Linked DNA regions of Homo sapiens: region 1 is linked to region 2. The links come from fine-mapping of genetic effects on gene expression. A gene starts in region 2. The other region holds a variant in brackets. All regions are shown on one strand. Distances are between the middles of the regions. Region 1 overlaps EXD3 (exonuclease 3'-5' domain containing 3). Region 2 holds the start of NRARP (NOTCH regulated ankyrin repeat protein).

Region 1 (5,368 bases), 98 kb before region 2:
AAGAAGATGTGGGAAGGTTTGGAACCTCCTAGAGACTTGTTGAATAGCTTTGACAAAAATGCTGATAGTGTTATGAACAATAATGTCCAGGCTGAGATGGTCTCAAATGGAGATGGGGAACTTGTTGAGAACTGAAGCAAAGGTGACTCTTGTTATCTTTTAGCAAAGAGACTGGCAGCATTTTGTGCCTGTCCTAGAGATTTATGGAACTTTGACCTTGAGAGAGAGATGATTTAGGGTATCTGGTGGAAGAAATCTCTAAGCAGCAAAGCATTCAAAAGCTGACTTGGATGCTGTTAAAAGCATTCTGGGACCAGGCACAATGGCTCACACCTGTAATCCCCACACTTTGGGAGGCTGAGACGGGCGGATCACGAGGTCAGGAGTTCAAGACCGGCCTGACCAATATGGTGAAACCACATCTCTACTAAAAATACAAAAATTAGCCGGGCGTGGTGGCACGCACCTGTAATCCCAGCTACTCAGGAGGCTGAGGCAAGAGAATCACTTGAACCAGAAAGGCAGAGGTTGCAGTGAGCCGAGATCACACCACTGCACTCCAGTCTGGTGACGGAGCAAGACTCCATCTCAAAAACAAAACTAAAAAAGAATTATGTTTAAAAAGGGAAACAGCATAAAAATTCAGAAAATGTGCAACCTGACGCAGTAGAAAAGAAAAACCAATTTTTTCAGGAGAAATTCAAGCCGGCTGCAGAAATTTACATAAGTAGCAAGGAGGCTAATGTTCATCCCCAAGACCATGGGGAAAATGTCTCCAGGTCATGTCAGAGACCTTCATGGCAGCCCCTCCCATCATAGGCCTGGAGGCCCGGGAGGAAAAAGTGGTTTTGTGGGCTGGGCCCAGGGTCCCTGTGCTGTGTGCAGTCTAGGGACTTGGTGCCCCATGTCCCAGACACTCCAGCCGTGGCTGAAAGAGGCCAACATAGAGCTCGGGCTGTGGCTTCAGAGGGTGGAAGCCCCAAGCCTTGGCAGCTTCCACGTGGTGTTGAGCTTGTGGGTCCACAGAAGTCAGGAAATGAGGTTTGGGAACCTCTGCCTACATTTCAGAAGATGTTTGGAAATGCCTAAATGTCCAGGCAAAAGTTTGCTGTGGGGCGGGGCCCTCATGGAGAACCTCTGCTAGGGCAGTGCAGAAGGGAAATGGGTGGGGGCCGGGCACGGTGGCTCACACCTGTAATCCCAGCACTTTGGGAGGCCGAGGCAGGCAGATCACAAGGTCAGGAGATCAAGACCATCCTGGCTAACACGGTGAAACCCCGTCTCTACTAAAAATACAAAAATATTTAGTCGGGTGTGGTGGCGGGCATCTGTTGTCCCAGCTACTTGGGAGGCTGAGGCAGGAGAATGGTGTGAACCCGGGAGGTGGAGCTTGCAGTGAGCTGAGATCGCGCCACTGCACTCCAGCCTGGGCAACAGAGTGAGACACCATCTCAAAAAAAAAAAAAAAAAAAGGAAATGGGTGGGAGCCCCCACACAGAGTCCCTACTGGGACACTGCCTAGTGGGACTGTGAGAAGCAGGCCACTGTCATCCAGATGCCAGAATGGTAGATCCACCGACAGCCTGCACCATGTGCCTGGAAAAGCAGCAGACACTCAACACCACCTGTGAAAGCAGCTGGGAGGGAGGCTGTACCATGCAGAGTCACAGGGGTGGAGCTGCCCAAGACCATGGGAACCCACCTCTTGCATCAGCATGACCTGGATGTGAGACCTGGAGTCAAAGGAGATCATTTTGGAGCTTTAAAATTTGACTGCCCTTCTGGATTTCAGACTTGCGTGGGCCCTGTAATCCCTTTGTTTTGTCCAATTTCTCCCATTTGGAACTTTTTTTTTTTTTTGAGATGGAGTCTCGCTCTGTTGCCCAGGCTGGAGTGCAATGGCGCGATCTCGGCTCATTGCAACCTCCACCTCCCAGGTTCGAGTGATTCTCCTGCCTCAGCCTCCCAAGTAGCTGGGACTATAGGTGGGTGCCACCACGCCCGGCTAATTTTGTATTTGTAGTAGAGACAGGGTTTCTCCATGTTGGTCAGGCTGGTCTCAAACTCCCGACCTCAGGTGATCCACCCTCCTCGGCCTCCCAAAGTGCTGGGATTATA[A/G]GAATGAGCCACCATGCCCGGCCCAGAATGGCTGTATGTACTGAATACCTGTACCCCCATTGTATCTAGGAAGTAACTAACTTGCTTTTGATTTTACAGGCTCATAGGCGGAAGAGACTTGCCTTGTCTCAGATCAGACTTTGGACTGTGGACTTTTGGGTTAATGCTGAAATCAGTTGAGACTTTGAGGGACTGTTGGGAAGGCATGATTGGTTTTGAAATGTGAGGACGTGAGATTTGGAGGGGCCGGGACGGAATGATGTGGTTTGGCTGTGTCCCCACCCAAATCTCAACCCGAATTGTATCTCCCAGAATTCCCACGTTATGGGAGGGACCCAGGGGGAGTAATTACATCATGGGGGCCAGTTTTTCCCATGCTATTCTTCTGATAGTGAGTAAGTCTCATGAGATCTGACGGGTTTATCAGAGGTTTCCTCTTTTGCTTCTTCCTCATTTTCTTTTTTTTTTTTTTTTTTTGAGATGGAGTTCTGCTCTGTCACCCAGGCTGGAGTGCAATGGTGCAGTCTCAGCTCACTGCAACCCCTGTTCCCAGGTTCAAGTGATTCGCCTTTCTCCGCCTCCTGAGTACCTGGGAGGCACCACCACCACGCCTGGCTGCTTTTTGTATTTTTAGTAAAGACAGGGTTTCGCCATGTTGGCAGGCTGGTCATGAACTCCTGACCTCAGGTGAACTGCCCGCCTCAGCCTCCCAAAGTGCTGGCATTACAGGAGTGAGCCACTGTACCCGGCTCTCATTTTCTCTTGCCACCACCATGTAAGAAGCGCCTTTCGCCTCCCACCATGATTCTGAAGCCTCCCCAGCCATGTGGAACCATAAGTCCAATTAAACCTCTTTTTGTTCCCAGTTTCAGGTATGTCTTTATCAGCAGCGTGAAAATGAACTAATATGGGGGTTAGGAAGAGAAGCCAGGAATAAGAGAGGAGACCCTTGTAAAAAGCTTCAGAAAACCAGAACTCGTGGATAGTATTAAATTTGTGATAGCAGAAATGAACCTTTCAGTGAGAGGGTTGCAAAATAAAGTTCAGGAAATCTCCCAAAAAGGCAGAGAAGGAAAGATGAGAAGACAAAGTAATTCTCAGGAAGTGTAAGTTCTAAACAGCAGGAGTTCCTGAGGACAGAACTGAGGGCGTGGAGGGCAGGACACCATCGGGAAGCCACATGCAGAAGGGTGGCCACGGAGCCCCCAGGGGACCACACCATGTCCGTCCTGCTGGGATCCGGCCACGGCCCCGGGGTCTCCCCAGAAGATGCTGGCACTCGAGTCAGGGGGCATCAGATTTCTCAGCAACCCCTGAGGCTAGAAGACAGTAGAGGGGCGTTACCATGACCGTCAGGAGAATGACCCCTGCCCCACAGCCACGCACAGCCAGGCTTCCAGTGGAGGTGCAGTGTGCGTGTGTCATGGGGACGTGGATGCGCCTGTGCCACAGGGACAGTCTGTGTATGTCACGGGGATGTCGGTGTGCACGTGTTACGAGGATGTTGGACGCGTGTCACGGGGACATGGTTGCCTGTGTGTCTTGGGGATGTGTCTTGGGGACGCGGGTGCACATGTGTCACGGAGACGCGGTTGCCTGTGTGTCTTGGGGACGCGGGTGCATGTGTGTCACGGGGACGCGGGTGCCTGTGTGTCTTGGGGATGCGGGTGCACGTGTGTCACGGGGACGCGGGTGCCTGTGTGTCACGGGGACGCGGGTGCCTGTGTGTCACGGGGACGCGGGTGCCTGTGTGTCTCGGGGACGCGGGTGCCTGTGTGTCTTGGGGATGCGGGTGCACGTGTGTCACGGGGACGTGGGTGCCTGTGTGTCTTGGGGACGCGGTCGCCTGTGTGTCTTGGGGACGCGGGTGCCTGTGTGTCTTGGGGACGCGGGTGCCAGTGTGTCTTGGGGACGCGGTTGCCTGTGTGTCTTGGGGACGCGGTTGCCTGTGTGTCTTGGGGACGCGGTTGCCTGTGTGTCTTGGGGACATGGGTGCACATGTGTCATGGGGACGTTCTCAGACAAGCAAAGGGCTACTCAGTGCTCCTCCCTTGCGGTTCTGCCTGAGGTGCTCCTGGAAAAGGTGCTCCCTTAGAACTAGGAGGTGAACTTCGGGGAGCACAGGGGACAAGAGGGAAGGGGGTCCAGGGTGAGCAGGGCTGCAGTGCAGCCATCCAGACGGAGGCAGGCAGAGGCTGGGGAATGGGTGTCTCCACAAAGCGTGTGAACCCCAGAGCCAGGCGTGCAGTGCTGCAGACGGGGCCGTTCACCAGGGGAACAGAGGGCGCCCGGCTGTGGACCGTGGAGCCACAGTTCCTTCTGTCTTTCCCCCTCGTTCTTTCAATCTGGTCCTTCTTTGATCTGTTTTCAGATTCACTGACTCATCTGCCATCCACCTGCTGTGAAGCACAGCCACTGAGTCAAACACATTTCAGTGATGACACTTTTTATTGCCGAGTTTCCATTTAGCTCTTTTATGTAGTTTCATATAATCTTCATTTCTCTCCTTTTACTCATTAAAACCATATTTTTTAACTTTATTCATGGTTTTTTGGGGTTTTCTTGAGACAGGGTCTCGCTCTGTCATGCAGGTTGGAAGGCAGTGGTGCGATCTCGGCTCACTGCAGCCTTGATCTCTGGGCTTCCAGCGACTCTTCTGCCTCCGCTTGCTGAGTAGCTGGAACCAAAGGCGTGAGCCACCACACCCGGCTACTTTTTAATTTTTTTGTACAGTTTGACCATGTTGCCTAGGATGGTCTCAAACTCCTGGGCTCAAGTGATCCTCCCGCCTCAGCCTCCCACACTGCACTCGGCCTCCTTGAACTGTTTGAACATGTTTTCTGTTCATTCTGTGAACGCAGTTGAAATCGTTGTGTTAAAGTCTTTGCTAACACCAATAACTTTGAGGCCTTCCTCGAAGTTGCTTTCTGTTCTCTGTTTTTTGTGTTTTTCCACTTGTTTATGGGTCATATTTCCTTGTTTCTTTTTAGGTCTTGTGATTTTTATTACGTGCTGAGTTTCGTGAATTATCCATTGTGGAAACTCTGGATTTAGGTATCATCCTCTGAAGAGCATTGTTTTTCGCTCCGGTGGGCTGTTCAGCTTCTGGCTGAGTCCCTTGAACTTGGGGTTGTGTCTTGATGTTTTGTCAGGGGCTCTTCGGAGAGCCTAGGGCCTTTCTCAAGCCTCCTAAGCTGGGTGGGACTCAACCTTCTCCAGCTTTCACGGGCTTGGTCTGGATCTGTCCTCC
Region 2 (5,368 bases):
GTGTGCCCAGGGGAGCTGGGAGCCACGGTGGAGGAGCAGGAGCCAGGGCCACTCAGCGAACTCCCTGTGGGCAGTGTGGTGTGGCCAGCCTCTGAGTCCCACAGATGAGCCTGGGTACCTGCCTTGGGCCACAGCCACACTGCCGTGGCAGGCCCCACCACCTCTGCCTGACCCCGCTCTGGACCCCGGGCAGGGGGTAGGTTCCCGCCCTGCAGGGCCGCCACACCAGCCTCACTGTGCCTGCCGGGGCGCCCGCACCGCCTGGCCCTCGCCAGGGGCCGCTGCCGATTTCACGCCCGTGGCGGGGCCCCGCGTTCCCACACCGAGCTCACACAGGGCCCCTTTGTTTGCCGCCGCCACGGATGCCGACGGCACTTTCTCCCAGGCCCTGCTCCTGGCCCACAGCATAGCCAAATGCCTTCTCCAGGCCCGGCTTGAGCCCACCTGGGCTTCGGCCTGTTTGCAAACCACCCACCCTCCAGGGGAGGCCCTGTGCCTGTTGAGCACCAAGGGCTCTGCCCACCCCCCAGTCATGCCCTCTGCCTCTTGCCAGTCTAGCCTGGCTGGGCCCTGGGCATATGCACAAAATCCATCAATGCCCAGGACAGAGCTCCTGCCCTCCTGACAGTGAGCTCAGAGCACCCTGCACACCCAGCCCTGGTCTGAGGTCCAGAGACACAGCCAGCACCAGGGACCAGCAGGCAGCCCAGCGGCTCCCCCTCCTTAAGAGGCCAAAGGTGCCCAGCAGAGCACGGCAGGCCAGGCCATGCCATCCCTGCCCCGGGCCTGGGCTCCACAGCGCCCATCTCTGTTCTGCTGGGGGCCTACTCCGGGACTCCACTGTGTCCTCACCTGCATATTGGGGAGCACCCCTCCACCCTCCGTGGCCCCCTTGAGAGCTCCTGGGAGAAGCAGTGAGGCCCAAAGGAGAGAGCTGAACAGAACCAGCGGGATCACGGCCCCAGGAAGACCAGAGCGAGCTCTGAGCTGTGCCTTTGAGGGACAGAGGTTCCCAGCCCACCAGGAGGACCCCAGGGCCTCAGGACCCTGCTCCGGTCAGCCAGGGTCTGTCCCGAAGGGAGCCTGCCCAGTTTTTCCTGCCAGTATGGGCACAGCATGGGGTGGGGACACACCCCTGTGGGGAGCCGGATGTGGGGACATGGAGCTGGTGGGCGGAAGCCTCCTCAGACAAGGCCTGGCATGGGGGTCTCCCCAGCCCGAGCTCAGAGCTGCCTGCGCGGAATTCCCGGCTTGGCTTCAGAAGGAATTCAAGCCCCAGCCTGCCTGGCCTCCTGCTCCGCGCCTGAGAATCACTCCTCCTTAATTTCCAACGACCACAGCGAGTTGTAAACTGTAAAACTCTAATGAGGAAATGCGCTGTGCTTCCCCTGCTAGTGCCTCCCGGTCAATTGTTAGAGTGGTCAATAAAAATGGGTTTTACAGTTTGGAAGCCAGGCGTTTCAGAATTCCCTTCTGGCCCTGGCGCCACACCTAGCCCTGCTCACCTGGGCAGGACCTATGTGTCCCGCATGCTGGTGCGTGGGCAGCAGAGGGAGGCAGGCCGCGGTCCCGACCCTCCCGCTGCGCCCCGGCCCGGGGCTTCCTCCCGAGAGGACAGCGGAACCCCCTTCACCGCCAGGCGATAGAAGCCGCGGTGGCCGGCCGGAGGCCCCTCGCATCAGTACGGTTGGGGCACACATAGGCTGAGCCGGCGGCCATGAGGCTGCCCGCGCGCGGGAAGGACCCGCGTGGCTGAAGGCCCCACGTCAGGGCCTGGAGTTGCCACCCGCGTGGACGGTGAGCCCGGAGGCGCGGGCTGGCCGGGGTCGCCGCGCGCCTCTCCGCTCAGAGGGGTCTCTCCTTCGCCACGGGCCTGAGATGCCCGCGAACCCCCTGCCCGGGAGAGGCCGCCCTCGGGGCCACCTGGCGGTCGCGCTCGGGTACCGGGCAAGGCCTGGGTCTGGCTGCTGAGGGAGCTTGGAATTCCCCGGGTGGCCGGAGGGAGAAGGGGCGGGACGACCGCAAAGAGACGCGGAGCGCCCGGGGGGCGCGCGGACGGCGGCGGCGACGGAGCTGGACCCCCCCGGCGGCCACCTGGCCTCCCCCGCCCAGGCGCTGCCGGCGACCAGCGCCCCCTGCCGCGAAGCGCGCCGCCGCCGGGACCCGCCCCCGGACCCCTGCGCACGGCACCGCCCACGCCCCGCCCCCATGTGGGCGCGGCCCAATCCCGGGGCCGCCGGCGCGCGCGTCACGGGCTGCCATTGTTATGCAAATATAAAGAAGGTAAAAGGCGCCCCGGCGCGGCGGGCGAGCTAGTGCTGCGGCGCGTGGGGAGGCGCCTTGGGACCGCGTGGGAGCCGCAGCCGAACCGAGTAGGGACCGGGACCGCGCGGCGCCGCCGTCCCCGGCCGGGCCCGGCCCCCGCGAGCCGAGCGCGCGCCCCCGTCGCCCACCCGGGCGCGGCTGGATGCGGCGGGGTCCCCGCGGCGGCGACCCCCGGCCCCGAGCGCCCGGAGCGCCCAGAGGCGGCGTGCGGGGCCCGGGGACGCCGCGCCCTCCATGCGCCGAGGCGCGCCCCGAGACAGCCGGGGGCCCGCGCCGCAGCCGCCGCCCGCGCTGAGCCCCGGCCCGGCCCGCGGCCCGCGCCCGGCGGCAGCATGAGCCAGGCCGAGCTGTCCACCTGCTCCGCGCCGCAGACGCAGCGCATCTTCCAGGAGGCTGTGCGCAAGGGCAACACGCAGGAGCTGCAGTCGCTGCTGCAGAACATGACCAACTGCGAGTTCAACGTGAACTCGTTCGGGCCCGAGGGCCAGACGGCGCTGCACCAGTCGGTCATCGACGGCAACCTGGAGCTCGTGAAGCTGCTGGTCAAGTTCGGCGCCGACATCCGCCTGGCCAACCGCGACGGCTGGAGCGCGCTGCACATCGCCGCGTTCGGTGGCCACCAGGACATCGTGCTCTATCTCATCACCAAGGCGAAGTACGCGGCCAGCGGCCGGTGATGCCCGCCGGGACCCCGGACCCCGGCCCTGCGCCCGCGTCGTCTCTGCTGTACCTTCCCGCCAACTACCTCGGTGCGCGCCCGGCTCGCAGGCCCCGCCAGAAGGCCCGTGGCCACGGCGAATACGGCGCGTGCGTCCCGGCCCCAGGGTCCGGCAGCCCCGCCGGCCGAGCGCCTCCCTGCGGCCTAGCCGGGCCCGGCCGGGCCGGAGCAGCTTCCCACGGCCCCCACCCGCTCGCCTGCCCGCCGCCTCGCGGGTGGGGGCGGGGCGCGGGCTCCAGCCCCTTTTGAAATTTGAGTCTCGCAACCAGCAAGTTCGGAATCCCGAGATACCGGATCCTCTGCGCAAAATGTTTTCTCCCGAAGGTGAAAGGCGGGCGGCGGGAGCCGAAGGCGGACTCGGAGCGCTCCGCCGCCGCCTTCAGGACCCGCCCGCAGGCCCGGGACGCGCCGATGCCGGCTGCAGCCGAGGAGCAGCCCCGAGGTCCGAGGTCCGCGCCGCTGGCGCGCGGCCGAGGAGACGCTCGGCTGTTCGCTGTTGCTGGTGTTCTAAACTATTTATCTTGTGTGTGTACATTTGTGGGTGGAGTTTGTGCGCCTGGTTTTTTTGTTTGGAAAACACTGCGTGGTCAATGTGGTTATGGGGGGGAGTGATGCATTTTTTTCTAGTCTTAAAACTAAAAACTTGAGTCTACCATTTCTTGGTTGCACTGAAAATACCGCCCAGCCTGATGGTGTTCCCGTGCTGTCCCTCCCCCTTCCCTTCTCCCCGCGTCTACCTCCCCACCCCGTTCTGTTCCCCCTCCCTCCTTCTCCCTCTCCCTCAAATCCGTGAGTTTTGGAAGCCCCAGGGCCTCTCTCCCCCGCCCCTCCTGGATGAGGCCACCATCCCCCAAACCGGCTTGTTTTGCAGTTTCCCCAGGATCCTGGAAGCTCGCTGGCGCTCGAGGGTGGCGGGGACACGGGGGGGTGGGTGAAGGTTCGTTACCTTTTCTAGTGCGTTCTATCATAGTTAACGGTTGCACACTTTTTTAAAAAAAGTAAATGGATTTGCCACAATTAAATGTCATAACATTTATGACAGAATATAAAATATTAACATATTTTAAGCCAAGTTTTAGGTGTATTTTTTGAATCTTGGTTATAAACCCAATTTTAAAGGGCGATGTATCCAGCGTTGTGAAGGCAACAGAGTGTACCCATATTTATATTTTTATAAAATACCTATAAGACTGTGAATCTCTTGTGCTAATGGCTGAGTTAATTGAAGGATCGTTTTGCCCCTTTTTAGCCTCCCAGAGCTTCGAGGACTCAATTCGAACCCGAAATCCTGCCGTGGGGGAGGGGTTGCGTCGAGACCTGGGCCCGGGGAGGTTCTCCTGCGTCACTTTCTGTCCTGAAAGGCGCCCTTCCTGGTTTCTGTGGCTCCAATTTTCTATGCAGCCCCACACCCCTTGTTGTTTTGATCCTGAGAAATAAAAGGGAGGCTGAATTATTCAAATTTAAATGAGGTTTCCCCTTCATGGAAGTGCTGCTGACCCTTCGTGCAGAAATGGGGAGCACTTGAGGACACAGGTGGGTGGAGGCCCTTTGTGCGTGGCTGGTCGTATTCGGGCAGCCCTCCGTCGCTTTTTATAAAACTTTGTGTGAGAAGAATATATTGATAATGTCAGTGAAACAAGCAGACATTGAAATGGAGGCACAGATTACTCCACAAGGAGTTCTTCTGTATATTTTTTCTAGATGCAAATACCTTTTTAATTATGTTAATTAATGTTAAGACTTTCTAGGCTTATATCGAAGCTGTGTGTGGGTCACGGGGTGATCACTGCTAACTGGATAAAGTTTGTGCAGCACATTCCTGAGTGTACGATATTGACCTGTAGCCCAGCGTGAAAAATTTATAAATAAATTTTTCATTGATCTTTTTATATTAAAAAAAAGTTTCTTGGTCCTTCTTGGCTTTGGCACAAGTTGCAGAACACCCTCTCTGGGGACGAGGGTCAGGCTGTGACACGGTTTGTGGGTGCTGGGTGCACAATGCTTGGCTTGTATTTGTCTGAAGACAGAGCCTGGTAAACTCGCTCCCAGCCCCACGCAACGGCCAAGCCCAACCCGGCTGCACACAGGACTCACGAGGACCCAGCACCTCCAGCGTGCCCAGAGCTGGTGTCACAGCCTCTGCTCTGTTCCCCAGCAAAGCAGCTGAGACCTCCGCTGGAGAGGAGAGTTCGGCCTGAAGCCCTGCCCACTCTGACCCGCTAGGGGGTCATGCTGGAGGCTGCCTGCTGCACAGAAAGTGTATCTTGTAAATTGGGGGGAAATCCCATAGCTGCTCACTCCTGGCAGGTAGAAAGTCCCCTGGAG

What was found. PIP is the estimated chance that this variant, and not a neighbour inherited with it, causes the effect.
Region 1: its variant is the best candidate, but not a certain one, in a credible set for the expression of NRARP in lymphoblastoid cells (GTEx, PIP 0.69).

What each region holds. Positions count from the first base shown.
Region 1 is chr9:137,397,257-137,402,624 of GRCh38, reverse strand. The region is part of intron 1 of EXD3 (exonuclease 3'-5' domain containing 3); the gene reads left to right. Among named protein-coding and RNA genes, the nearest start is that of EXD3, 23 kb to the left of the region's middle. The variant A/G (reference allele first, on the strand shown) is at 2,119.
Region 2 is chr9:137,299,218-137,304,585 of GRCh38, reverse strand. NRARP (NOTCH regulated ankyrin repeat protein) reads left to right here and starts at 2,315. Exons shown (of 1, transcript NM_001004354.3): 1 at 2,315-4,955. The coding sequence starts at 2,658. The coding sequence ends at 3,002. RefSeq lists silencers at 1,756-2,395, 3,078-3,157, 3,228-3,287, 3,408-3,457 and enhancers at 2,098-3,016, 4,816-5,368.